Regions from separate parts of the Homo sapiens genome. Here all the other regions are reported to be linked to region 3. Evidence: microRNA targets listed by miRTarBase, many of them from high-throughput screens and not tested one by one. Region 3 holds a microRNA gene; each other region holds the end of a gene's coding sequence.

Region 1 (7,120 bases), not on the chromosome of region 3:
CTTGCCAGGCTCAGGATCCTGCTGTGTGTAAGGGCCAGTAAAAGCATCTGCACCATTTACACCTCACTTTTGACTCACTAAATCCAAACCCCAGCCTTCACCAAACACAGAGAGCTAGGTCAGGAATCCAGCCCTTTCCCACAAAAATAATAGTCACATGGCTGGGTGTGGTGGCTCTCGCCTCTAATCCCAGCACTTGGGGAGGCCGAGGCGAGTGGATCACTTGAGGTCAGGAGTTCGAGACCAGCCTGGCCAACGTGGTGAAACCCCATCTCTACTAAATTCCTGACCAGGTGCAGTGGCTCATGCCTGTATTCCCAGTGTTTTGGGAGGGTGAGGCGGGAGTATCACTTGAGGCCAGGAATTTGAACCAGCCTGGGCAACATAGTGAGACCGTGACTCTACAAAATATAAAATAAAAAAGTAATTGGGTGTAATGTGTGTCTGTAGTCCCAGCTACTCTGGAGGCTGATGTGGGAAGATTGCTTGATCCCAGGAGGTTAAGGCTGCAGCCAGCCATGATTGCACCACTGCACTCCGGCCTGGGAAACAGAGAGAGACCCTGTCTCAAAAAAAAAAAAAAAAAAAAAGCCGGGCGTGGTGGCTCATGCCTGTAATCCCAGCACACTGGGAGGCTGAGGTGGGCAGATCACCTGAGGTCGGGAGTTGAGGACCAGCCTGACCAACATGGAGAAACCCCGTCTCTACTAAAAATACAAAATTAGCTGGGGTGGTGGCGCATGCCTCTAATCCCAGCTACTCGGGAGGCTGAGGCAGGAGAATTGCTTGAACCCAGGAGGCGGAGGTTGCGGTGAGCCAAGATCTCACCATCGCACTCCAGCCTGGGCAACAAGAGCGAAACTCCGTCTCAAAAAAAAAAAAAAAAGGCCGGGTGCAGTGGCTCACACCTGTAATCCCAACACTTTGGGAGGCCGAGGTGGGCAGATCGCCTGAGGTCAGGAGTTTGAGACCAGCCTGACCAACATGATGAAACCCCATCTCTACTAAAAATACAAAAATTAGCTGAGCCTGGTGGCGGGCACTTGTAATCCCAGCTACTAGGGAGGCTGAGGCAGGAGAATAGCTTGAACCCGGGAGGCAGAGGTTGCACTGAGCCAAGATCGTGCCACTTCACTCCAGCCTGGGCGACAGAGTGAGACTCCATCTCAAAAAAAAAAAAAAGTCACTTTACTCCGATGCCAGACTTTCAGGAAGAAGCTTATTTTCACTTCTCCATTCTTAAAAGTGGAAACCTCCCTTGCCCTGCATTCCTCTTTTCTGTGAGTCCCTTGAGGGCGTCTCCTCTCTCCTCCAGCTGTCTGCAACCTGTCAGGACCCCACACAGAGCTCAGCTTGCCGGCAGGAGCCTGTGACACGTGGACCACCCCATCCTCTGGAAACACTCCCTTCACTTGGCTTCCAAGACACCTCCTTAGCCTGGGAACCTCAGGTCCCTACTCCATCAACATCCAGGCCCTCACCGAGCACCCGCAGGTGACTCCAAATGCATCCTTCCCAACCCCAATCACTGCAATCAGACGTGCAGAGCCGCTTTTGGACAGCTGTCTGGAGAAGTCCTTTAGGCTTGAAAGAAGGGATTCGTGATTGACTTGAGAGTTCCAGAAAAGGATTAATATACCAATACAGTTTTTATTTATTTATTTTTTGAGACGGAGTCTCCCTCTGTCACCTAGGTTGGAGTGCAGTGGCGCGATCTGGGTTCACTGCAATCTCCGCCTCGCAGGTTCAAGTGATTTTCCTGCCTCAGCCTCCTGAGTAGCTGGGGTTACAGGCATGCACCACCACGCCCGGCTAATTTTTTGTATTTTTAATAGAGACGGGGTTTCACCATGTTGGCCAGGCTGGTCCCAAACTCCTGACCTCCAGCAATCTGCCCTGACAGCAGCTCTGATTAAGCAACAGGGAGATGCTAGGGATGGGTAAGGGGAGTTATGCAATGGACCTGCCCAACTTCAACTCCCACCATCAAAGCCCTAGAGGTCAAGGGGCTCATCCTGCGTTTCTGGGAAATGCCGTGCTACCTGTCGGCCTCCTCAACTCCCTATGCGTTCTGTGGCTGAATTTTGATGTCACTAGAGACACAGCCCGGCACAGAGACCAGAACACAGGTTTCTGTGCCGTCCTCACCACTGGGAGGCTGTGACCAGGCCTAGTCCCTGAACGTCTGGGGGTGTCTGCTCATCTCGTCTCAAGACACGTCTCTCACGATGCATTGGTTTGGGATTCGGTCAAACAGAGAAAAAACAAGGTCCCTGGCACTGGGCTGGCTTCCTCTCCATGCAGCCCTTTGACAACCTGAGCATGCTTAGCTCATTTGGAAACCAGCAAATGCTGAGTTTTCTTGTTACTATCCAGCTTTCCATCATTCGGCTGCTTTTTCTTTCACCCTTTACATTCTGTACTTTTCATTTGCTTAATAGATTCTAGTCCAACAAATCACTTTGTAGGCATTATCTCCTTTAAAAGGCCCTATTTCCAAAAGAAGAACATGTGAGAATGAACATTTAAAAATAGTTACTCAAGTGACTTCATTGTTTGAGAATCCCCATTAACATATGTGGCCCGTGTTAATAACAGTGTGTATCACTCTGCGGCACACAGCAGTTTCACATTATTGCAGCATTCCGCTCCTGCTTAATGTGCTTTTTTTTCCAGGTGATGGGATTTTGCACCAAGTGAAATAATTGGTAATATTGAGGATCATCCATTTTTTATTACCTAGAATTCAGAAGTGATCAGGACGGGCCTGGTGTGACTCTGAGATGATGGGCTGTTGGGAAGTGTGATGTGATGTGGTACTGTGCGCTCTCCAATCCTCCGGGAAGCAGCATCTCGGCCCCTGGGGGTGGGGGGCACGAGGCCGGCCCCAGGGACCCTGTACTTGTACAGCCCGTCCGCAAATTCAGGCAGGACATGCGGTCGCAGTCTCACCCTGGGATCACTGACCACAGGCCCAGTGGGTCCCTGTCAGTCTTAAGAACTTTTTCTCCCCATCTGCCCATGACACTGTGGAGAAATGAAAAGCTCTGTCCTGCCCAGCTTCCCCGAAAAGAAAGTCTGGCTGAGCATCTTCACATGGAGCGAGAAGACGTTTGCTTCATGAGGCCAAGAAAAGCCAGTTACACACACACCGACGTCTTCAGGGCAGGCACATGTTTCATGCTTATTTATTCAATCACCGCTTCATGCTGTAGGGTGAACCTGATCAACTATCTAAATTCAGAAGAAAATGTAAAAAGTTGTCTGATAAAAAAACAGTCTTTACTCTCACAGAACACTTCTGATGCAGGATGGGAAAGTGGCTCTCCTTCCCCACGTCACACGATGCTCCGGCGGACACTGAGCATCCTATAATATCCTGGCATATGCCCTGCCACCACCCACCTGGAGGCAGCATCAGGATCCCAGGGCTGAGGGCTCAGGCCCACGAGGCTGCCCGCCCCGGCAGATGCCAGGCGCAAGTAGTGGGCTGTCACCTACGCTTCTGACCAACTACAGAGCAGGAACTCCCTCTCCAGGTTCAGCTGATTTGCCAGAGCAGCTCTGAGCTCGGGAAACGCTTTACTCACGCGTGCCCGTTTATTATCAAGGCTGTGACAAGGGCACAGAGGAACGGCAGATGGAGGTGTGCAGGGTGAGGTGTGTGGGAAGGGGACCGGGAAGCTCCCATGCCCGCTGGGTGTGCCACCCTCGGGGAACCCCCATGAGTTCAGCAACCAGGAAGTTCTCAGAACCCCAGGCCTCTGGGGTTTTATGGAGGCTTCATTACGTAGTCATGACTGATGACACACCACTGGCCACTGGTGATCGACTCCACCTTCTACCCCCACCCCCCCAACTTCCTGGAGGTGGGGGAGGGGGAGGGCTGAAAGTCCCCCCACTCCAATCACCAGACTGGTTCCCCGAGCAAGCACCCCCTCTCCTGAGGCTGTCCAGGAGCCACCACAGATGGCCTCATTAGAACAAAAGATGCTCCCATCACCCAGGAAATTACAAAGGCCTTAGCAGCTCTAGGCCAGGAGCTGGGGTCAAGGGGTCAAAGAGCAAATATGAAAATGTGGGCTTCTCCTCGTGCCCTATCTACAGGGGTTGCAGGAGTTCTGTCCCAGGGATTTAGGGCCCAGACCACATCTGTTTCTTATCTCATCACAATATCACAGGCTGGTACCCTGATGACTCTGTCAACCCTCCAACTGACTTTCTGGAGAGAATTTCCCTCGTAACATCGAGGGTGCACCTAGCTAGGAGCAGGGGCTGGCGGGACAGACGGAGCGGATGGATGTGGTTACTCACTCACCGTTCACACAGCCCGGGGCATCAAGGGCACAACGCACCGGAGGAAGGATCCGAGAGCTCTCCCGACGCCACCTGCCTTTCCCCTTTTGTGCAAAGGCCTTATGAAGAAAATCTGTTTGACACCATGGGTTATTTTTACATGTGATATATCCTGAAGACATGAGTTCTGTCTCCGGAAAGTGGTATCCTTCGTAGCACAAGGCTTTTCGAAACCTGCCCCGTTTTTTTTAACCTGGGCTCACAACTCCGGCCCCTCTGAGATCCAGTGATACCATGAGTGTCATCTGTATTCACTCTATCCTACTTCCACTGGTTGAAATGTCTTGTATTTTTCTATAGTTTTTCTATACTTTCTATTACACAACGAACAACAACGTGAGGGTTTTTTGGTTTGTTTTTTGTCTTCTCCAAATGCTGAAACTACCCTTCCATGCAGAGGAGGCTGCAGAATCAGGAGACGCGCCGGAGCATCCGAGGGCTGTGCAGGAGCGCACTTCCCCACCCTCCCCTCAGTTCCCGACTCGGGAAGCTCTGCGCCTTCTACACGACAGGGGAGGAATCCACACGCCACACCAGCAGCGACTGAGGACAAACCACGCAAAGAACCGGCTCATGGATTTCGCATTTGAGATGCTTTTTATAATAAAGTTATGCCAAAAATACAGCAACAAATACAGAAAAAGTATTAACAAACGGAGAAGCCCCAGATACACGTACAGTAACAATACAAAAATGTGACTGGTCAAACAGCTCAAGTTCACATTTAACACTTTCAATTATTTTTAATTACACTATTTCTGTTCAAAAGAATGTTTTCCTTACATACAACCATGATCAGTCTTTAGTCTCAATCGTACCAAAATAAAGCTATATATAAGCACTCTGACTAGGTAAGGTGTGAAGTACCCCGTGAGTTGCTCTGTGGCTTGAGATGGGACACATGGTCTCAAATGACTCTTATGCATGCCTTGCCTTAAGAAAGAAAAGTAATGTTGATGGTTTAAAAAGTAAGTACTTTTTGAAGCAGCAGATGAAATGTGTTTACTACCAGCCTAAATCAAAGAACATGGCAAGAGCAAGATTGTTCTCAGGAAGGAAACCATAAATATGGCATTTATGTAAAATCCTTGCAGCATCTGACCATGCTTTTATCTTTAAAAAAAAAAAAATCCTCACTTTCTTAAATATAAGTAACAGTTTATTAATTTTTTTTTTACAGTGAGATATGGCTATGGGAAGCAGGTGATACTATTTGTTTAAGAAACTGGGATGCCAACTAACACGTGGAGTTCCCCAAGACTTTGCAATCTCCATTTGTGAGTTTCTGTAAAAAAGGGAACCCAGCTAGAGGATTCACAGAGACCTTGAATGACAAGCGACATACTCGAAATCTGCAGCTCTCCTCCCGGAGGGCCCAGCGTGCCAGGAGACACGCTGCAGTAAGGCACTTACCAAGCTCCTTTGGATAGAGGGAAAGAAGAAATCAATCCAGGCAACATGCAAGTTTCAGTGAAGTCAGACATTTTATGGGAATTTAAAGTCTTGCCTGTTCTCAGTGCACCCCAGTCAGTTACTGACATGTCAGCCTCAGAAACCGCACATGGCCTCAGGAAGGTCAGGCCCTCCTGCTGGTGGGCACGCCATTGGCTCTTGATCGCTGATGGTCTCGATGATGGTCATATTTCACAGAAATAATGAGGAAAAGCAGGAGGGTAGCTCCTTGAATAGCAGCCAGAAGAAAAAAGTAATAGTTCAAATAGCAGCCGTTAATATTACCTGGAGAAAACAAAAGGAAAGCGGCAGGTAAGCTGCGCTGCTACAGGTATTTTTTCAAGACTTTACTATTTAATCTGGTTCCCACTAAGGTTTAACTGGAGTCATAAAAAAAGTAACAAATGTTGTCTCTGTAGTCCAAAATGCACAAGCATCTTGCTTTCAAAACCACTGAAGAAGCTCCCTGAAGTCAGATACATCGCCACCGGGGGCTCTGGAGGTGGGCTGTCTGCAGCCCCCCACCTGCCCCTAGCAGCCCATCCCTCTCTTCTGTAAGGTAAAAGGAGGAGGTTCCCTGAGGAAACTAGAAAAGGTAGCTCCCCAGTACTCAGGAAAATCCCTGCGTGGCCTGCAGACACACATGCGGTGGTGAAGGGGACAGTGTCGACGGAGAGTGTGCCTAAGGCCGCACGACAAGGCTGCAAATCAGGAGCAAGGGGAAACCTGCCAACCCAGCCTCCTGTGACTGCTAATCCCCCCACACCAGAACAGCTGGGCAAAGTAAAAAATTACCTTCCTGTGTTCTTGCCACCAGAAACAAGTGTTAGCCGGTCTGGTGTTATTTCCTTCCTGCCTTTTCTGAGGCAGTGTTCCTCTCCTCAACTACTTCAGGGGAACTTCCTCCATTTATAGTTATGATTGGCCTGGAACTGCATTGTTGAGGAAGGCAGATGCGAAGATAACAAAAGAGCGCCTGACTATCTCTTTATCGAATCCTGAGGTGAGCGTCTTTGTAACTTGGCTATGGAACCTGTGCACTTTTTAGCATCACAGATTGCACTATGACACAGCCTGAACATCGTGAATTCTGGATTCACTGCATGGGTCACTGACACACCCAACACACCAGGGCCGACAGCTGGGCAATGTATCAAAGGAAGAGATGAGCTGGTTTCTGAATGTGTCTTAAACATGTTCAGGTTTTAGCATCCTCAAACTGACACAAGCAGATACCTCTGCATACTTTAATACAAAGAGTTAGCATACACTGAATACCCAACCGAGTCCCGGGCACTATGGAGGCACTTTA
Region 2 (7,096 bases), not on the chromosome of region 3:
TCATAACACGTTTTGAATAGCAAATTTTCTTTTGTTCTTGGTGTAATCAGAATGTATTGAAACCCATATTTGTGTTGGCCCCTCTTTGAATCTTTAATCTGTCAAGAAGCAGCACAACCTTTTTCCTGTTACTCTTCAGAAGGCAGTTCAGTTTTACCTTTTTCAAATCGGTGTTACTGTAGATCATACTTAAAAACAGAACAAAGAGTCTATGAATGTTGTAGTGCTTTTAAAATGGAATTTAATACAATCACATGAGGTATCTCGGATTCTTTCCCTATGAGGCGAAAGGAGGACAAAATAGCTCAGCCTCTGGAAAGGGCTAGAGAAGACTGGCTTTATAGCACCATATTAGACAATAGGTTCTACTGTAATCCAGTTCAAACTGCAGACCCCAATAGACAAAGCCTTACAACCTACCTCAAGAATATTTTTTACGAATCTGAAAGGTAGGAAAGAGTTATGAGTCTGTATTTTCTTGGTTCCACTGAACAAACATGTTTTTCTAGTGTTTCGCTATATTAGTTTTCTCAAGATATTTTATTTTGAAAGGTGTAACTTTTATCTCATTAAATATTTGAAATTTAAAAATTGTCATAATCTAAAATATCATACCTGAAATTAAGTTAAAGAGAATACCCAATATGCTTGAAATTATGTAAACCTATATAGTTAGTAATATCTGCTGTGAGCAGGTAAGAACTAGGATATTCTTTTCTTTTTTATTGTTATATTTTGGCAAAGTATATTTCATGTCATGATCCATTAAATAAGAATATTGAGTATTTCTGAAAAAGTAAAATGTTGGTTTGTGGTATTTCACCTTATTTTTAACATTACCAACTCATACTTTCTCCTTTCTCTATCGCCTTTACATTATTATTATAGGATGAACTTTGATAATGTTGAAGATGAAGAAAAAGTTTAAAAGAAATTCTGACAGATGACATCAGAAGACACCTATTTAGAATGTTACATTTATGATGGGAATGAATGAACATTATCTTAGACTTGCAGTTGTACTGCCAGAATTATCTACAGCACTGGTGTAAAAGAAGGGTCTGCAAACTTTTTCTGTAAAGGGCCGGTTTATAAATATTTTAGACTTTGCAGGCTATAATATATGGTTCACACATGAGAACAAGAATAGAGTCATCATGTATTCTTTGTTATTTGCTTTTAACAACCTTTAAAAAATATTAAAACGATTCTTAGCTCAGAGCCATACAAAAGTAGGCTGGATTCAGTCCATGGACCATAGATTGCTGTCCCCCTCGACGGACTTATAATGTTTCAGGTGGCTGGCTTGAACATGAGTCTGCTGTGCTATCTACATAAATGTCTAAGTTGTATAAAGTCCACTTTCCCTTCACGTTTTTTGGCTGACCTGAAAAGAGGTAACTTAGTTTTTGGTCACTTGTTCTCCTAAAAATGCTATCCCTAACCATATATTTATATTTCGTTTTAAAAACACCCATGATGTGGCACAGTAAACAAACCCTGTTATGCTGTATTATTATGAGGAGATTCTTCATTGTTTTCTTTCCTTCTCAAAGGTTGAAAAAATGCTTTTAATTTTTCACAGCCGAGAAACAGTGCAGCAGTATATGTGCACACAGTAAGTACACAAATTTGAGCAACAGTAAGTGCACAAATTCTGTAGTTTGCCGTATCATCCAGGAAAACCTGAGGGAAAAAAATTATAGCAATTAACTGGGCATTGTAGAGTATCCTAAATATGTTATCAAGTATTTAGAGTTCTATATTTTAAAGATATATGTGTTCATGTATTTTCTGAAATTGCTTTCATAGAAATTTTCCCACTGATAGTTGATTTTTGAGGCATCTAATATTTACATATTTGCCTTCTGAACTTTGTTTTGACCTGTATCCTTTATTTACATTGGGTTTTTCTTTCGTAGTTTTGGTTTTTCACTCCTGTCCAGTCTATTTATTATTCAAATAGGAAAAATTACTTTACAGGTTGTTTTACTGTAGCTTATAATGATACTGTAGTTATTCCAGTTACTAGTTTACTGTCAGAGGGCTGCCTTTTTCAGATAAATATTGACATAATAACTGAAGTTATTTTTATAAGAAAATCAAGTATATAAATCTAGGAAAGGGATCTTCTAGTTTCTGTGTTGTTTAGACTCAAAGAATCACAAATTTGTCAGTAACATGTAGTTGTTTAGTTATAATTCAGAGTGTACAGAATGGTAAAAATTCCAATCAGTCAAAAGAGGTCAATGAATTAAAAGGCTTGCAACTTTTTCAAAAACCTGTTAGAATATGCTTTATTGTGTTTTGAGGAGTTTTCCTTTTTTTCTTTTCAATATCACTTTATCCTGCTCACCAGTATTTCCTCATAAGGGTTATTATAGCCATAATTAATGTTAAAATAGACTTTGTTCTTCATATTCTCCCATCTTTTTCGCTACTATATACTCTGTCTGGATTCTGCTGTATGCCTGTTGGCATATATGGAACAGTCACCACTTGTCACACTTAACACCAGCTTTTTGAATTATGATCAGTAATGGCAAGAGCCTTTCATTCTCGAATGTTTAAAGCCTAGGAGTTCTACAAAATTGGCTTCTTTCTACAAGAATCCCAAAATGGAATGCCTAAAGAAGTCTTACTTGGGTAAATACTTACTAAAATATACTGGTTATGTGCATATCACCACACTGGACACTGAGGAGTGTTCAAAAGGAATCTAAGACATGGTCCCCATCTTCCAACTGTCTGTAATTCACTGTTTTGTCATTGAGCTCATAAGGTACTTACATTACTACCTATAAATGTTTCCTGTACTTGTTAGTTGTTGAGAAACATTTTAGGCAGTAAATAAAATAGTAAATATTATGTGTCCTATAATTTGACCTAAGCTGTGTGCCTTTGGAATCAGCTCTAAGCCAGGGCCCCCTGGGAGTCATGTTAAGAAACACGTATCATAAAGTGACATACATCAAGGTTATCTTATATAGTCATAACAGTATTATTGGGTCTTTCAAAAACAGCTGGCAGATTGAGCTTTTAATGGCTATATTGATACAGTAGATAGAGCACCTCTAAGGAGTACCAGGTATAATGTGCCATTTCTCTCAGCAACACCATTTTTGTGTGCAGCTGACCCTCTAACATGGTATCAATTCTAGCTGACCAAAGCACATTCTATCAGGCAGCCAGGCTTGGAAATTAGGTCCATTTAAAGTATGTGGCTTACAGTCAGGTATGGTGGTGTGCGCCTATTGTCCCATCTACTTGAGAGGCTGAGGCAGGAGGGATTGCTTGGGCTCAGGATTTTGAATCCAGCCTGGGCAACATAGCAAGACCCCATCTCTAATAAATAAATTATGTTTTGGGCATTAATGATGTTTGTCTATTCTGATTTCTCAAATTTTATTTAGGTCTTTCATAGCTTTTTTATTTAAAGGTATATGATTAAGATAAAGGAAAAGTAAAATGAAATGTTTATGTAATTTTATATTCTCAAAATTTTCTTTAAATTTGCTCTGTTTTCTGACAGTGCTCAAAGTGGGAATTTTTTTAGAAGTACGGTTATCAAAAAAACACATTTCCTATGGGACACACATTTCAAAGATGTTTAGTACGATAAAATTTTTAGTAAAAGGGTAGCACTTTTAAGTCATTTGAATAGAATATTTGTGTAATATTTAGTCTAGTGTTAGTCCTTAAATCTGCCAACAAAACCAGATAGATGTCTTAAAGTAGGCACATTTATTCCATTGTGACTGTTAAGAAATAATAAAAGATTAAATTAACAAAATGCATTTTAAATTTTTATGATACCTATAGAAAATTGATAATGAAGATGAAAAGTAAATAACCTTTCTGATAATATTCTACTTTACACATATACTGAAAACTTACTTACATATACCCAAATTCTTCTAGTGAAGAAGTTTGTAATATGGTTTGAGTATTTGTCCCCTCCAAATCTCATGTTGAAATATGATCCCCAGTGTTGGATATGGGGCCTGGTGGGAGGTGTTTGGGTGATGGGGGCTGATCCCTCATAAATGGCTTTGTGCCTTCCCCAGTGGTAATGAGTTCCTGCTGTGTTTATTCCTGCAAGAGCTGGTTGTTAAAAGGAACTTGGCACCACCACCTCCTCTCTTTCTCGCTCCTTCTCTGTGTGACATGCCTTCTCCCCCCGTGCCTTCTGCCATGAGTAAAAGCTCCCTGAGACCTCACCAGAAGCTGAGCAGATGCTGGTGCCATGTTTTTACAGCCTGCAGAACTGCAAGTCAAATAAACGTTTTCTTTATAAGGTAACCAGTCCCAGGTATTCCTTCATTGCAATGCAAAACAGACTAATACAGTTTCTTTTCAGTAAGAATTACAAAATTTAGGCCAATGACCAAGCTGAGTATAAATTACTAATCATACACAAAAATGTGTTTCACTGGCTTGAGTCATTTTTCTGTTTAACACTGAATTTACACTTAGATTCTTGTACTGTCACTGAGTCCCCTTGTAAACAGCTAGGTATATTTTGTGAATGGAAACTAGCCAAAAATACAGCCAAAGTCTCAACGCCAAACTGGTCTACATCAGTATGGACTCCAGAAATGCATCTTTCAACCACTTGATTGCATTAAGTAGTCATTTGAGTGCATCACCTAGTGGCCTTTGGTCCTGAAAGTTAGCAATCATCCCCAAAAAGGTCTGTGTTAATAACTGATAGACAATCTTCATTAAGCAACTGCTGTTTTTTTTTTTTAATACTTCAAGTTCTGCAATACATGTGCAGAACATGCAGGTTTGTTACATAGGTATACATGTGCCATGGTGGTTTGCTGCACCCATCAACCTGTCATCTACATTAGCTATTTCTTCTAATGTTGTCCTTCCCCTTGCCCCCTACCCCGCCGACAGGCCCCATTGTTGATGTTCCCCTCCCTGTGTCCATATGTTCTCATTGTTCAACTCCCACTTACGAGTGACAACATGTGGTGTTTGGTTTTCTGTTCCTGTTAGTTTGCTGAGAATAATGGTTTCCGGCTTCATCCCTGTCCCTGCAAAGGACATGAACGCATCCTTTTTTATGGCTGCATAGTATTCCATGGTGTGTTTGTGCCCGTTTCTTTATCCAGTCTAACATTGATGGGCATTTTGGTTGGTTCCAAGTGTTTCCTATTGTGAATAGTGCTCCAATAAACATACGTGTGCATGTGTCTTTATAGTAAAATTATTTATAATCCTTTAGGTATATACCCAGTAACGGGATTGCTGGGTCAAATGGTATTTCTATTTCTAGATCCTTGAGGAATCGCCACACTGTCTTCCACAATGGTTGAACAAATTTACACTCCCACTAACAGTGTAAAAGCATTCCTATTTCTCCACATCCTCTCCAGCATCTGTTGTTTCCTCACTTTTTAATGATCGCCATTCTAACTGATGTGACATGGTATCTCATTGTGTTTTTGATTTGCATTTCTCTAATGACCACTGATGATGAGCTTTTTTTCATATCTTTGTTGGCCACCTAAATGTCTTCTTTTGAGAAGTGTCTGTTCATATCCTTTGCCCACTTTTAATGGGATTTTTTTCTTGTAAATTTAAGTTCCTTGTAGATTCTGGATATTAGCCCTTTGTCAGATGGATAGATTGCAAAAAGTTTCTCCCATTCTGTAGGTTGCCTGTTCACTCTGATCATAGTTTCTTTTGCCATGCAGAAGCTCTTTAATTAGATCCCATTTATCTGTTTTGGCTTTTATTGCCATTGCTTTTGGTGTTCTAGTCATGAAGTCTTTGCCCATGCCTATGTCCTGAATGGTGTTGCCTAGGTTTTCTTCTAGGTTTTTTATGGTTTCAGACCTTACATTTAAGTCTTTAATCTATCAACTTAATTTTTATATAAGGTGTAAGGAAGGGGTCCCAGTTTCAGTTTTCTACATGTGGCTAGCCTGTTTTCCCAACATCATTTATTAAATAGGGAATCCTTTCCCCATTGCTTGTTTTTGTCAGGTTTGTCAAAGATCAGATGGTTGTAGAAGTGTGGCGTTATTTCTGAGGGCTGTGTTCTGTTCCATTGGTCTATAGCTCTGTTTTGGTACCAGTACCATGCTGTTTTGGTTACTGAGCCTTGTAGTATAGTTCGTTCTTTTTGCTTAGGATTGCCTTGGCTATATGGGCTCTTTTTTTTTTGGTTCCATATGAAATTTAAAGTAGTTTTTTCCAATTCTGTGAAGAAAGTCAATGGTAGCTTGATGGGAATAGCATTGAATCTATAAATTACTTTGGGCAGTATGACTATTTCACAATATTAATTCTTCCTATCCATGAGCATGGAATGCTTTTTCCATTTGTTTCTGTCCTCTCTCATTTCCTTGAGCAGTGGTTTGTAGTTCTTGAAGAGGTCCTTCACGTCCCTTGTAAGTTGTATTCCTAGGTATTTAATTCTCTTTGTAGCAATTGTGAATGGGAGTTCACTCACGATTTGGCTCTCTGTTTGTCAATTATTGGTGTATAGGAATGCTTGTGATTTTTGCACATTAATTTTGTATCCTGAGACTTTGCTGAAGTTGCTTATCAGCTTAAGGAGTTTTTGGGCTGAGATGATGGGGTTTTCTAAATATACAATTATGTCATCTGCAAACAGAGATAATTTGACTTCCTCTCTTCCTGTTTGAATACGCTTTCTTTCTCTTGCCTGATTGTCCTGGCCAGAACTTCCAGTACATAGGAGTGGTGAGAGAGGGCATCCTTGTCTTGTGCCGGTTTTCAAAGGGAATGCTTGCAGCTTTTGCCCATTCAGTATGATATTGGCTGTGGTTTTGTCATAAATAGCTCTTATTATTTTGAGATATGTTCCATCATATCTAGTTTTTTGAGTGTTTTTAGCATGAAAGGGTGTTAATTTTATCGAAGGCCTTTTCTGCATCTATTGAGATAATCATGTTTTTGTCATAACTGCTATTTCAAATGTTTGGAGGAAGTAAAATGTCTTTAAAAGAATAAGTGTTGATTTTTGGAAAATATGAAATTGGAAACTTAGAAAACTTGAATTCTAAGTGGCTATTTATATTACCAAGCGGTAAAACATTAGCTAACTAAAACATGG
Region 3 (7,120 bases):
TGGAGGCTGGAATGTTTAAGATCAAGGCCCTGGCAGATTTAGTGGCTAGTAAAAGCTGACTTTCTGGTTCATAGCTGGTCACCTTTTTGCCGTATCCTCACATGGCGGAAGAGGCAAGAAAGCTCTCTGGGGTTTCCTTTATAAGCATCAATCCCATCCTGACGGCTCTGATCACCTACCAAAGGCCTCACCTTGAAAGACCCTCCTCACATTGGGCATTAGGTTTCAACACAGGAACTACGGAGAGACAAAAATATCAGCTGAGAGCGGATTCTTTCTACCCCGGATTTGTTCTCCAGTTAAGAACATTCTTTTCTCATGGGATGGTGGTAAAACAGGCCTGTAAAGGCTTCCAGCTTGGGAGGGACCTGGCCTTGGAAAGTATGTAAGGTGCATCTCCCATCTGGGTCTCAAGTAATAATGCCACTCCATTCCTTCCTTTGGATTTACATTTTCTAGCCATTAGAGTGGTAAGATCTAAAAGGCTGAGTTCAAGCTGTGAGCCCGGGGGGAGAGGGGCCCAAAGGACCACTGGCTCTTTTCTAAAGGTCATTACGAGCCAGTCATTCTCACAGTAGAATCACGGGTAGAAGAGCTCAGGCCTCACCCAAAATAATTACACCAAAATCTATGTGGGCAGGGCCCAGGGTGTGTGTGTGTGTTGTGTACAGGGCCCAGGGTGTGTGTGTGTGTTGTGTACAGGGCCCAGGGTGTGTGTTGTGTATTTTTTTTTTTTTTTACAAGTTCTCCAGGTGATTTTAACAGGCAACCAATGTAGAAAAGCCATACTTAAGTCACAGGACTGCCTATGTCCTTATTTATTTTACCTATGGCTCAGGTAAAAGGAAGATTTCAAAAGGAATACTTGACAGAACTCTTCTAATAATTCTGATGTGAATGGTGGAACATGCTACTTATAAAAATACAGAAGAACAAAAAATACACTATTGCTAACGTTTTGATTGTATTCAAATTTTTATTTTTTGAACAAAAATTTAAGACAATGATTTTAAATAATAAAACATGGTATATATTCTAGACACTGGTTTTTTTTAAAGATTTATTAAATTTAGACTCCTATAGTTCTGTTGTGATGCTTTCTTCAACATTTATATTATTTCTTACCATTTTATCATCACTCCAAGCTTGCTAAACAAAGAATCTCTCTGTTAAGTGAAGTTTTACATTAAGGAAATACTCCACTAGCACACTGAACAAACCTACAGAACTGTCCTAGTTTATATTTACAAAACACAAGAAGTCTGTCCAGCCATTTTGGTTTTGTTGTTACACTGTCCATACTGAGATCAGCAGAGAGCTAAGTAATACACAAGATTACGCTTCGGCAGTGCAAAGGATGGCATCAACCAAACTTCATTAAACAGACCAACAAGTACAAACATGGTGAGCAAAGTTCAACTCAGGTAATAGTGATTAAAAACAAAACATGTAGTGGGTCACAACCAGACTGGTTTTCACTGTGCAACTTTCCTCAGGGAATAATACCCATTCACAGAAAGAAAGGAATATGCATCCAAGCCTTTGTTCATAAAGAAAATGCCCTTCAAACAAATTCATCATAAGGCTAAAAAAAAAAAAAAAGAAAGAAAAAAGGATGAAGCAGTTTGGCCCAGAGAAAAGCTTAAATATAATGTGTATACATACTTATAGATATGTTGCCATTTAAACCATGGATATAGACATTTGACAATTAAATGAATTGGCTCAGTAAAGTGAAAAAGTGTTTTCTATAAATATGTAGTTATTGCTGATATGCTACACATTATGCTTTGACATGGAGACTGTAGTAACTCAGAATTTAAAGCTGCCATATTGCCAGTGTTAGCCCTGCAGTAGGCATTCCTGTGGACAACATGCCATCCAATCCTGAAGAAAAAGCAAAACACCACTACTTAACAAAGAAAAGGCTTATGCACTGTCCCTTACATTTTTGTTTTTTTTTTTTAAAAAAACAAAACAAAACAGAATCAAGTCCAGTTCACCACAAGTTAAGCACAACCTGGCGAGCAAGTTTAGCGGCATGATGGGGAGAAAACAGTGAGGTACAGCATGCATTTACAACCAGCGCTGATCTAGTCTATTTTGTCATATAAACTTGAATACAAAAATCCAATTTAAATAAGACTAGACTTACTATAATAGTAAACAAACAAAAACAAAAAACAAAAAAAAAAAACACACACAGTAGACTTAGTTTGATACTGATTAATTTTAAGAGTAAACTCATCCTGTCCCCTCTTAATACTCTACTGCAATTTATTGATGGCTAGAATATTTACTGACTTAAAAAAGGTATTAAATACTTGTATCATGAAATTACATTCTTATTAACAATAAGACATACTGTGTAAGAAAATAGCTCATGTGTGAAATGTGTCTGAAATGCATTTTTTCCTTACAACTATCAAAACATCCACTCACACTAAAATGAAACCACTCCCAACCCCCCCTGAAAAAATGTTAAGGGAAGACGGGGTGGGCTGGGGGAGGAGCAAGGAAGGAAAAGATTTAGCTATACTAATTACAGCACAGTGATTAACAATGGTTCAAGACAGAACCAACAAGAGTTGGTCAAAAAGATGCCTTCAATACATGGCTACAATTAAAAACCAAACTCAGCCGCTTTTGGTTCATTGCAGTGAGACCAAAAAAATTATCTCTCACAGATTCATATAAATACTAGACTCCAGCTCTTATATCATTTTTTTTTAAGTTTTTCTGTTTGTTTCTGCAAGGCCTAGCTATCTTATTACAATTTATATTTGCTCTGCAACAACTACAAGAGGTAGGCATAAAGCATGAAAAAGTTTCTCAGTTAGTACCTCGCCATGTGTTGTTCACTGCACAAAACCATTCACTTTGGACATGAATAGTCATTCCTTCTATTATCTTCTAAACTCTAAAGCAAAGCTGCTGCCACCCGTAAATGTTCTAAAAGAGTGTACTCACAAGTAAGAAACTTTCTCTACTGAAGGATACTGTCACAGAGTTTGTTGCAGAGCATCTATATATATATTTATTTATTTATTTTAAAAAAATAAACAACAATGATGAACGAACCCAGGTTCCTAGAACCAATTCTCTTGATTCTCTACTTCCACAAAATAAAGTGTATCATTTGGCCAAGACTACAGATGTGTTTTTTTTTTTTTTCACAGATGCAAGTGCCATGCAAAAATAAATTAAAGAACAGATACCAAAACATACATGTGATAAAACTACAGAAGGTAGATTTTTAAAAGCATTTATATAAACATAATTTATAATACTTCTCTTTTTTCCTTTATATACAGTCACAAAGCTGTAGTTATACATCTAGGATTTCCTCTGCTGTACCCCCACAGCGTAATCTGTAGCGACCAGTTCTCCAGCTTATAGTTGGGTCCCATAATGCAGACAAAAAAATGTATATTGTCATGGATTCGCGGATGAACCAGGCGACTGCATAATCAAGTTTTGAAAAACACAGTGTGCCACCCTAGGAATGGAAAAAAAAATTTTTTAATTTCACTCACTGTCAAACTAAAGACAAGGTTAAAAAATTAAATTCTTGGATTTCACTTTTCTAAGTATACTATGTAAAATCAAGTCTGCTTCCTTATGTAATTTAACTGCCATGTTATACCGTTCAAGAAAATGCTAATTGTTAATGAAGCATTAAAATAACTGCTATCTTAATGTCTTATTAGTTTCAATACTCACTGATTTAATTAACTTCATGTTTTTGGAAACTTAATAAAAGCGATTATATAACCAATAGAAAGTTGCAAATCGACTTAAGTTTTGCATCAACATTCCACTAGAGAAAGTCATGTTCAAACCCGAGACTAACCTACAATGGGAAGCTGAAGAATGGCTCAGATACATTTCCTTCAACTTTTTCTAAATTGAAATAGTTCTAGTTCCACCAAGGGACTGCCAACCTTTTCATGCCTATCCACATACCTGGACACCCCTGAGTTGAATGTAGTCAAATATAAACCATGCCAGGCAATGACACATGAAAAATACCATAATATCCCATCTGAACACATGGTGGGCTGCCCATCCAATAATTAAACTGGCAACAAAGCATTCTGAAATTGGCTCACAAATTATTGTAGCAGGAAGCATGTTAATTCGTAGTTTGGTCCACCTGGAAAAACAAAAAGGATTTTCTTTAAAACAATATCCTGGCTACAAGACAAATCCTTTTTTTTTTCCCTCAAATAATCAATTTTTTTACCCTGTGATAGAAAGACCATTCTCTTTAAACTTTTTTTGTTTTGTTTTTTTTTTTTTACTTGAGACGGGGTTCTGCTCTGTCACCCAGGCTGGAGTGCAGTGGCACTCACTGTAGCTTCAATCTCCCAGGCTCAAGCGATCTTCCCACCTCATCCCACCAAGTAGCTGGGACCACAGGTGTACACGCCACCACACCTGGCTAATTTTTGCATTTTTTGTAGAGACAGGGTTTCACCATTTTGCCCAGGCTGGTCTCAAACTCCTGGGCTCAAGCAGTCCTCTCGCCTTGGCCTCCCAAAGCGCTGGGATTACAGGTGTGAGCCACCACACACAACCTAAAAATTTTTTTTAATGACTCTCTTTTCTATTTTTGTCTAGGATGTCAAAGAAAAATGTCTTTAAATTCATTTGTATGGCCTACGCTCTGATGAATACAGATAATAAAATTTAATCAGCACAGAAAGTTAGAAAATAAAGATCAGCATATTAAAAAATTCAGTCTCAACATTTCTCTAATGAGTGCTTTCAGTGTTATACAGCAAATAAAATACATTTAGACATTAAATTTATCTTAAACACAGACGTTAAACTCTATTTTCTGCAACTAAACAAAAATCTTCAACCTTTAGGTACATTCATTTAACTACATTAAACCTGTAAAAATTACCACCCCCCTCCCCACTTTCCTTTTAACGAAGTATAAAAAGAAAACAGTTGATTTACCTGATCATTCTGGATTGAAACTGAGAAATTGAATATGAGCCAGAGTTTTGCATTGCAACTTGAGTGGACATTGCAAACCTCCAACCTCTGAAAATTAAGATAATTAGAAAATAAGTTATGATGATGAACACATGCAAGCGTAACTGGTTATGCATTCAGTAATCATTATAAAGACCAGGCAACTGCCGGTATTCAGGGTGAGCCCAGCTTTCATGATTAGCACATGACTTAAGGTCTACCATACGTATGGATGTTTTAGCAATTATGCTGGCCCGTGACAGCACCATCTAAGAACTAGAAGAAACTGTACCCACCTTACTTTACAATTTAAGAAACTTAAAATGCAGTCATTTTGAAAAAAAATGGAGAGGGCTCCATATTTAATAGATTAGTCTCTGATGACTACTAACCAAACAACAAGACATGTAAACAGAAAGTGGCATTATGGATCTCATGGGAGACACTAGGAAACCATGAACCACATGAACACAATCATGACAGAATTTGTATTTAAAACACACTTCAGTTTTTAAAAAATTTAAAAGAATTCTCACACAAGGCAGTGATCTCCTTTAAAAACAAGTATTTTAGGCTGGATGCAGTGGCTCATGCCTGTAATCCCAGCACTTTGGGAGGCTGAGGCGGGCGGATCACGAGGTCAGGAGTTCAAGACTAGCCTGGCCAACATGGTGAAACCCCGCCTCTACTAACATACAAAAAAAAGTAGCTGAGTGTGGCGGCGGGTGCCTATAATCCCAGCTACTTGGGAGGCTGAGGCAGGAGAATCGTTTGAACCCAGGAGGCGGAGACTGCAGTGAGCCGAGATTGCGCCACTGCACTCCAGCCTGGATGTCAGGGCGAGACTGTCTCAAAAAAAAAAAAAAAAACCAAAACAAAACAAGTATTTTGTGATAGAGAAATGCTAAGTCAGTCATATGAATCTTTCAGTGGCTTCTTAGCAAAGTATCATATAATTCACTGACAAATTTCAAATTTTGAAATGATAGTCTTTAAATTTTCACCTACTAGTTTATGACTGCACTGATAGTTTTAATTCTTCTAAAACACAGAAATTTGTATCTATATAGTAAAAATTCTAAACACAGAGAAACTTACTTTTAATCGCTTTAAAACACATTAATTTGAAAAATGTAGAGGAATCAGAACATTTACCTTCTTCATTAGTACATATCTACAATTCTATAATTAGAATATGAATTACTCTATAAAATTATTGATCTGCTGGGTGTGGTGGCTCATACCTGTAATCCCAGCACTTTAGGAGGCCGAGGTGGGCAGATCACTTGAGTTCAGGAGTTCAAGACCAGCCTGGCCAACATGAAGAAACCCCATCTCTACTAAAAATACAAAAATTAGTGTGCATGGTGGTACATGCCTGTAGTCCCAGGTGCTCTGGTGGCTGAGGCATGAGAATCACCTGAACCCGGGAGGCAGAGGCTACAGTGAGCCAAGATCGCGCCACTGCACTCCAGCCTAGGTGACAGAGCAAGACTCTGTCTCAAAAACAAACAAAATAATAAAATTATTGACCTATTCTGTACTTACTAGCAAAAAAAATAAAATTAAATTAAAAAGCCCTAATCTATAGGTTGAACAAAAAGAATAAACCAACAGAAGTTAGGTAATAAAAATACTATGGCTTCATTTAGTTGTCTTACCGGTCAGCTATCGCTTTGGCCATAAAGTAATCTTCGGCAATGTACTGAGCAAAAGCTATAAGTCCTCCTGCTTGATCCAACACATCTTTTCTCATTAAACAAGACATTCCTGTCACACATTTGAAACCAGTTACATTGGCAGAGATATAGTATCTTGGATGTGAAGTTCCAAAATATACCTGCCCAAAAAACCACAAACGTGTATGATTAGAATTTCATGTTAAAAGCATGGTGTTCACGAACTGTTTTTCCCAATGGTTTTTTTATAAGTATGATTGAGTGAATATCTTATTATTCTTACGTAGACTACCTGAATAAAAAGTGGTAGACAATATTGCTTTCATAGAGCAAGCACAGTTAGTAAGCTAAAAATGCATCCAAATAAAACTTAATTTAGATACAAAATAAGGTAAAAATATCACTCATTGATATATAAAATATTAACAAATATTCAATGTATCTTGTTTTTAGGG
Region 4 (7,120 bases), not on the chromosome of region 3:
TTTAGCACTCAGGTGTAAGATCCTTGTTCACGGAGCACTTTCCATGGAATGGGTCCTGTGCCAGGGGCTGGAGGATGAATCAGACCCCACCTGGCCCTCAAGGAGCTTAATGTCTACAGAGGGAGAGAGACCAGTAATGAATCACGTAAGAGGGAGGCAAATGATGGCCAGAGTTAGTACCAGGTGCTGTAGGAGCAAAGTGGACTGGCACCTAACATAGCCTGGGGCTCAGGGAAGACTGCAGAGAGGAGCTAACCTTTGAGTGGAGGCCTTAGGATGAAACGGGAGAGTGGGAAGCTGAGAAAACAGCACAAAGGAAACAAATGGCAAGGACCTGGGAAATGGCGTGGCATGCCAAAGGGGAGTACGATCCCGCTGGAGTGAAGTGTTTCTCTGCATGCTTCTTTTGGGAGTGTGGGGTGGAGGAGATGTAGTTGAAGATGCTTACAAAGCCCAGGGCTTGTATGCTACATGAAAGAGCCTGGGCTTTATATTCTAGAGCCAGTGGCCCAGGGAAGTGATGCAGATCTGCACTGGAAAAGACTGTTGCCTGCAGGAGGGAATACAGACTAGGGTGGGGATGGACATGGTGGTAGGGGCAGATGCACTGCCCAGGGTAGGGATGGCAATGGCCTATGTCATCGTCTTTCTTAGCTCTCTTCCTAAAAAGGAACCCATGGGGAAAGGACACAAACCAACTCTCCTCACCTCCTCTCCGCAGCCTCTTTCCATCCTTCCCCTTCACCTGGCCCCCTTTCTTCCTGTGCCTTTCAGGTCTGCTTTGAGGCTGCTGCTGACAGGCCTTGATTCCTCTGCTTTCTACACTCGTGGGCCTCCCCTTTCTCTCTCATCTTCCACACCACTGCCCGGCTCTCTTTCCACTTCTATAAGGACCAGGGGTCCCTGGGCAAGGGTCTACCCAGCAGTGCCAGCACACTGGAAAGGCAGTGGAAGCTGGTGGAGAGTGGAGAGCATGTGAGCTTTGGGGTCTAACAAAACTAGTTTCCAATTCCAGCTCCTCCATTTATGACTAAACCTCCATGTTCTCACTTTCTCCCTACCGTACAAGGACAGCATTGCCAGTCAGCTAATTGTACTTTGATGGGGATTCTAAGAGGTAATGGGAGGGATTTGGCTCCATGCCTGGTGTGCAGTTGGAGCTACTACTTTGCTGATTAAGAACCTGAGGCAGCAAGATAAGTGACTTTTCTAGGCTGCTAATCTTCTAGTCCACAATTGCAAGACCCTGCCTCATTCATAGCCTGGGTGCCCAAACACTGGCAAATGAGGAGATCCACCTGCACTGGCTGCCAGGTCTGGCTAGCTGTACAAAGACTGCCCAGGGTAGGGATGGCAATGGCCTAGGTCATTGTCTTTTTCAGCTCTCTTCCTGAAAAAGAACACATGGGGGAAGGACACGAACCAACTCTCCTCACCTCCTCCCCACCAGCCTCTTTCCGTCCTTCCCCTTCGCCATATCTGGCCCCCTTTCTTCCTGTGCCTTTCAGTTCTGCTACCCCTCCCTATCTGGCTACCTCTCCTCTCCAGAAACAGCAGCCCAGGTGAAAGCCTGAACAGGGCCTCTGTCCTGTGTAAAAAGGGCCAATCACAGTCATCATGGGCTGCTCAGCAGGTAGCCTTGGAAAAGCAGGTCTGCTTCCAAAGGGTAAGGCTATCTTGTTCATGGTCCGACCCATGCTGGGTGCAGGCCTGTGCTGAGAAGTGCTGGTGCAGAGCTGGCCCTCAGGAAATCTAGGTTGAGTGGGCCTGAATGTGTTTGCCTTCTCCAGCTCAGTCCTCCAGCCTAGCCCAATGCACTTTGGGTACCAGAGAGCCCAGCAAACGTGCCCGGCAGACAAGCCCTCTGCTAAGAGCAAATGGCCTGCTGGGTCCCTGGCAGAAGTAGGCAATGTGTGGGAATTCAAGGGCAACCAGCCACGCAGCTCCCAGGACAAAAGTGTGCTGAGAAAGCCCAGCTGTCCTTTGAGGGTCTTCCACAGTACGGAGGGCCAGAGGCCCCTTTTGTCTATTTTTCAAAGCAGAGGGCCTTCTGAGAGGGTTCTGGGAAGCAAGGCCAGGACTCCTGGGTTCTCATAAATCTTTTAATAACAGTAAATGAAGAAACATTATAACAGTAAGCCCCATGGTGAGGGTTCCTTTTCATTCAAGGATCTTCAACAACAGAAACACCTGAGACTAAAATTCAGAATGCTAAGTACACAAATTAATGACCATTTATTTCCAAAGGCGACTGCAGATACCATTTCGGTACAATCAAAAGGTTTTACAAGACAGAGAAAACACATTACAAAATGCCCCAAGAGGTGAGCAAACTGGTGGGGGCACAGAGCACGCAAGAACCAGCCTGACAAAAATCCTAAGCCTGCTGCTGTTTAGGGAGAGTACAAAGACTGGTTCTAAGGGAAGCCACTGTGTGGGGGTTCAGGGGAGACAGTGACGGGTCTGCCCAGTGCATAGCAATCCCAGCTGGGAACTGAGGAAGGACAGGGGTAGGGGAAGAGGGGCAGAGGCATTTGCTAAGCTCCTGACAGAAACCATTACAGATCAGCCTATCACATTCTCTTCACTACAATAACACCAATATAAATGAAAGATTCTTTAAAATAGAACACAAAATGGACACCAAAAGAAAGCAAGAGTTTTCAAAACAACAGCTTTGTTTGAAATGACTTTTGTTTTGTTTTATTTTTCATGGGGCTTTGTCTGTTTCTTGCCATGAGTAGCAAACCAGTGTACAAAAATGTCACAGACGAGAGCAACAAGCGACTAGGTTTTCCTGAGCCCAAATCAGCTCACTCTATATACACAAAAGGAGGGCTGCCTCCCTGTCACTGACTCTACCCGCCACAAAGCGGGCAGGATGGGCAGTGGGGGGAGCTCCTTCCCAGCCTGGGGCCTTGCCAAGGAGCCCACAAGGGCCTGCAGGAGACCCTCCATAATCAGCGTCAGTGTCTTGTCTAACAGCATCACACATGGTCCTTTTTTCCTCCTCCCCTACCTCCCCTTCAGTAGAAACCAGTAAGAAAATCCTCTTCAGGAGGGGACAGAGGACTCTGGGTCAACATCTACAAATCCAAGGAAGTCTTTTTGGCAGAGGGAAAAATGGCCCTTCTGCCACTCCCTGAGCCACCTAGCTTACCCCCAGGGCACTGCCCTGCCCCAATACCAGTGCACAGAGACCTGCTGACAACTTGCTCTCTGTGGGGAGCTGTGCCCACTTCATAGGACACTGAATTACCAATGATCACAAATATAAAAACCTCAACAGAGGCTACAGCAAAAGGGGTGATCTGACAGCTAGACTGAGGTACTGTACGGTAAAGTTCGCCGATCACCCTGGTTAGCCCGGCGACCCTGCAAGCAGCTTCTATGAATGCGATGAAGTTTGAGGAGAGAGAGAGAAAGAGATTGCTGACTTGGGGAGACTGAGTCTGTGGCTTCAGAACCCTGCATGCCTTCACAGGCTGACAGAGGAACATGTTACTGTTGTGCCTCTGGGAGGAAGATGGGCCAGATCATCTTTGGTGTACAAAACCAAATACTGAGGGCAGGGAGGACCAGAAGCAGGCGTGACTGGGTCTCTGCTATTTGGAGTGGATGCCACAAGTTGGCCAGCTCCACAGACTGTTCTTGGCCCACATCCCTGGCCAAGGCTACCTAGGGGCTGGAGGGAGTACTCTTTTCCCTTCCTAAGGCCATTTGAAAGGAAACTGCCCTCTTCTACAAACACCCTCACACACGCGCAGAGCTCCCACACGCTGGCAAATGGCACACGGAAACCTGGCTGGGGAACTGGCTTGGCACTGACAGGAAAGCCCTGAGGAGGAGCTGGGAAGACAGCCCCACTGGCCACTGGGTGTGCAAGCTCCAGCTTCTCCCTCACTCCTGTACCAAAGCTGGGGCAGTAGAGGGCCGGCACAGGGCAGATATGAGGGCTACCCTATAAGGTGGGCTACCCTGTAAGGCAGGCTGCCAAGAGTCTGGTTGGGTTGCTTCTCTCCACGTTGGCTTGGCCCAAGATAAGAGTGAGATCTGGACCAGTTCAGATGCCTTATGCTCCCCAATGCCCCAAATACAGGCCATGGCTCCTTGTGAAGCCTATAGACTGGGCCCCCTCTATTCTTTTGACCTACATGTTTCTGAGCCAATCTGGCCCCCAAAAGCCCTGCATGCCCCCTTTACTTCTTCCTTCCTCTGACAGGTGGATCTGTCTCTGGCTTGGCCATGCCAGGCATGTGGCTTTTGCTTTCTTCTCTCCTTCCAAGCACCAGAAAGTGCCCTCCAGAATGGGGTACTAAGCTGTAGACAGAGCAAAGGCAAGCTTGTGGAGGATGTCAACATGGGGAAGGCTCGAGCAACCAGGCAACCTGTGCCATGCCACAGAAACGAGGAGGAGGAGAAGGCCTACACAGTCACACCCCTATGACATTCCGGAGCTAGTCTTCAGCTGAGGCACAGATCCTCTGCTGGCAGCAACTCCAAGTTCTGGTGGAGGACAGACCAGGCCCCCAGGGGCTCCTCCCACAATCCCCTTCCAACTTCTCCTTTTGTAAAGAGGCCAAGGGGCACTGAGGCCTTGTGTATTTCCTCATCAGCTATTCCTACATGTAGCAGTTTGACGGTGGGCAGGGCCAATCCAGCCATTCAAGGAGCACCTTCCCTGGAGGGCCACCCTAAGGTGAGAGGCACTAAGAAAAGTTTGGCCCTGCCTTCAAAGAGGGCCAAAAACAAAGCTTACGCATCAAAAGGAGCTCAGGAGAGTAAGAGCACTTGGTGCCCTCCCCTCCTGCTCCCCAAGCCCTGGGGATTGATAGCCTCAATGCCCGCAGGCCTCTGCAGAAGGACGGTCCCTCCCAGGGTTGCTTCCTATAGGTCCACTTGCTAAAATTATGACCACTGAGGCACCGAAGCTCAGTGTAGGTCAAACACGGTCAAACTGGAAATACTGGAACTGGTCTAGGTCAACTGTGTTGCCTAGAGTGGGACAGGGGAAGGGAGGCTCATCAGACAAAATCACCAAATGAGCTTTTCTGTTCTTAAGCAAATCTGTTCCTAGTGGGAGTCAATGTGGAGTCAGCAATGCCCAGCCACTTCCTGCCTGCTTGAGGTCCGTGCATAACTGAGCTGAAGTCCTTCAACAAAAGCTCCTCCTTGTGGAGCACCTGAACCTCCACCCATGAGGACTTAATTCTTTGGCAGCCCCCTTTCAACCTAGACATGGGATTTGGGGGTAGACAGGATGAGGAGGACGTGATGTCCCCCACATTAAACAATTCAGCACTGAGTGTGGATACACTGAAGAAATCTGGCCCTAGGGAAACAACACTGGCCCTGTAAAACCAAGAAACAGATCTACAGAATCTTCCAGAAATGGGCCCTGATGCGAGGATTCTCCAAACTCAAAAACCAACCAACCAGCCAATTCCAGCTCATTCTTCCCTGAAGCTGCCTGAGAGAGGGAAAGAGGGAGGGAGGGGGGAGGGGGAGGGGTGGGGGGAGAGGGAAAGGGAGAGGGAACACATTTAAGGGGCACTCAAGATTAAAATGGTATCTATTATCAACATTTTCCTAAAACAGAGTGTATGATTCAAATCACAGTTTTCTGTGCTCACTTCTGATTGGGATATGCATCAGTTCTCAACTCTCACAGGCAGAACTTACACAGGGTCTGGCCTAGTACTGTATATATCTTGACCCTCTTCACTTTGGATTTGTCATTGCAATAGATCTCCAACCCTCTCAATGGAATCTAGCCCTTGGGCTGGGTGGTGCTCTCACCTCCCACCCCAGGCAGCATCCTGGAGGGAGTGGCTGGTTGGCTGTTTACTTTGAGTCATGGGACACCAGTGACCAGAATCTGGCTGGTTCTGTCTTGACCACGAGCTGTGAAATCCCTCGGCTCTGGGCTTGCCGCTGGTATAGAAACAAGGCCTCAGTCCCCCGTGGTAAGGGCTGTGCTGGAGACTAAATGGGACGCCAGCATAAGCCTGGAGGTCCCTGGCAGTGGAGAAATGAAACACAACCCAATCTCATTGCTTCGATGCCAAAAGAACTACTACTTGTTGTTCCCTTTCTCCTCAACCAGCTGTTGTTAAAGCACCGACAAGCAGAGTGAAAGAGCCGCTCACTGCAATCTCCCCATGTAAGGCCACTAGGAGCAGAGAGAGAGCCAAAGGGAAGGAGGAAAATCCAGCGCCCAGCACTACACCCCAGGCTCAAGGAGACATCGTAGGGGGAAGAGCTGGGAAAGGAAGAGTGGTAGAAGAAAGGGACAGAAAGGAGGAAAAAGAAATACACCAAACATCCTACTGCCCTCTCCCATGATTTTATCAAGAACTGGGTGTTCTCCAAGTCAAGTCACGACTTGCTTCCTCAGGGAGGAAAAAAAAAAAAAATAAGCACCTTCAGTCTATTTTCTTGGCTGGAAGCCGGAGCAAATCCAGCAGATATTTACACAAGGGCCCAGCCATGTATGAGAACAGGATGACCAGCTTCCCGTGGGTCATGGTCATGAGAGTCTGGTGTCCCGAGGCCCAGATGCGATACCAGGGGCCGTAGAATGGGTCTGAGATGGCCGGACACAGCATGTTGTTCAAATTCACTTCGGTGACCTGCAGGGACAAGGGAGGTAGAGTGAGCGTTCACCATCCTTAGGCTTTCTCTGGCTTCTGCCAGTTCAGCCATCTCTACCTAATGGGGGACTAGACAAGGAGGGATTGACCAATCCCCACCTGTTTATAAAGGGATTTCTTCTCTCCCCTCGGTTTTCTGAGTGAGTCAAGCTAGAGGCCTCTGGAGGTGATGGCGGAGGGCCGTCTAGTGGAAAAGCTATTCAGTTTTGCTCACGGTCTTGCCTTCTGTTTGGGCCCAGAACTTGTTGCCATTCCTGAGCATCTACTATGTGCCTAGACCCCGGAGAGGTGTTACAGGCTAAAAGTACAGCCCACAGCGTGGGCCCTGCCTCCACGTAACTGCAATCAATCAAGTGGGGGTGGTCAAAGGTTTACTACATCTGACCCCAAACCAGACAGGGCTCACCCAGCTTTATACACTATGAGGAGGTCTGAGGAGCATACAATATGGGGGCTGAGTCCTCAGA

The links. The annotated mature microRNA hsa-miR-4668-3p reads GAAAAUCCUUUUUGUUUUUCCAG and lies in region 3 at 4,157-4,179, opposite strand. An mRNA with a match to its seed (bases 2 to 7 or 8) in the 3' UTR can be bound and repressed. Matches are read on the target gene's strand: a 7mer-m8 pairs with bases 2 to 8, a 7mer-A1 pairs with bases 2 to 7 and ends in A, and an 8mer does both.
Region 1: the mRNA of SLC15A4 is a reported target of hsa-miR-4668-3p. Seed matches in the 3' UTR shown: 7mer-m8 at 5,483-5,489 and 8mer at 5,437-5,444.
Region 2: miRTarBase lists DNAJC10 as a target of hsa-miR-4668-3p. Seed matches in the 3' UTR shown: 7mer-m8 at 3,304-3,310 and 7mer-m8 at 5,573-5,579.
Region 4: the mRNA of TMEM164 is a reported target of hsa-miR-4668-3p. Seed matches in the 3' UTR shown: 7mer-m8 at 6,206-6,212, 7mer-m8 at 3,045-3,051 and 7mer-m8 at 2,372-2,378.

The regions. Positions count from the first base shown.
Region 1 is chr12:128,788,264-128,795,383 of GRCh38, forward strand. It overlaps SLC15A4 (solute carrier family 15 member 4), which reads right to left. Exons shown (of 8, transcript NM_145648.4): 8 at 4,931-6,093. The coding sequence ends at 5,933. Among named protein-coding and RNA genes, the nearest start is that of SLC15A4, 32 kb to the right of the region's middle. RefSeq lists enhancers at 1,353-1,452, 3,517-3,606, 3,605-4,105, 3,657-3,816, 6,881-7,020.
Region 2 is chr2:182,776,233-182,783,328 of GRCh38, forward strand. DNAJC10 (DnaJ heat shock protein family (Hsp40) member C10) reads left to right here. Exons shown (of 24, transcript NM_018981.4): 24 at 889-7,096. The coding sequence ends at 900. Among named protein-coding and RNA genes, the nearest start is that of DNAJC10, 64 kb to the left of the region's middle.
Region 3 is chr9:111,929,206-111,936,325 of GRCh38, reverse strand. It overlaps MIR4668 (microRNA 4668), which reads right to left and starts at 4,226; the gene lies at 4,157-4,226. It overlaps UGCG (UDP-glucose ceramide glucosyltransferase), which reads right to left. Exons shown (of 9, transcript NM_003358.3): 6 at 6,648-6,826; 7 at 4,969-5,055; 8 at 3,967-4,156; 9 at 957-3,499. The coding sequence ends at 3,329.
Region 4 is chrX:110,172,757-110,179,876 of GRCh38, reverse strand. TMEM164 (transmembrane protein 164) reads right to left here. Exons shown (of 7, transcript NM_032227.4): 7 at 2,089-6,632. The coding sequence ends at 6,426. LOC124905230 reads right to left here and starts at 4,104. Exons shown (of 2, transcript XM_047442708.1): 1 at 4,060-4,104; 2 at 2,089-3,961. The coding sequence starts at 4,104. The coding sequence ends at 3,479.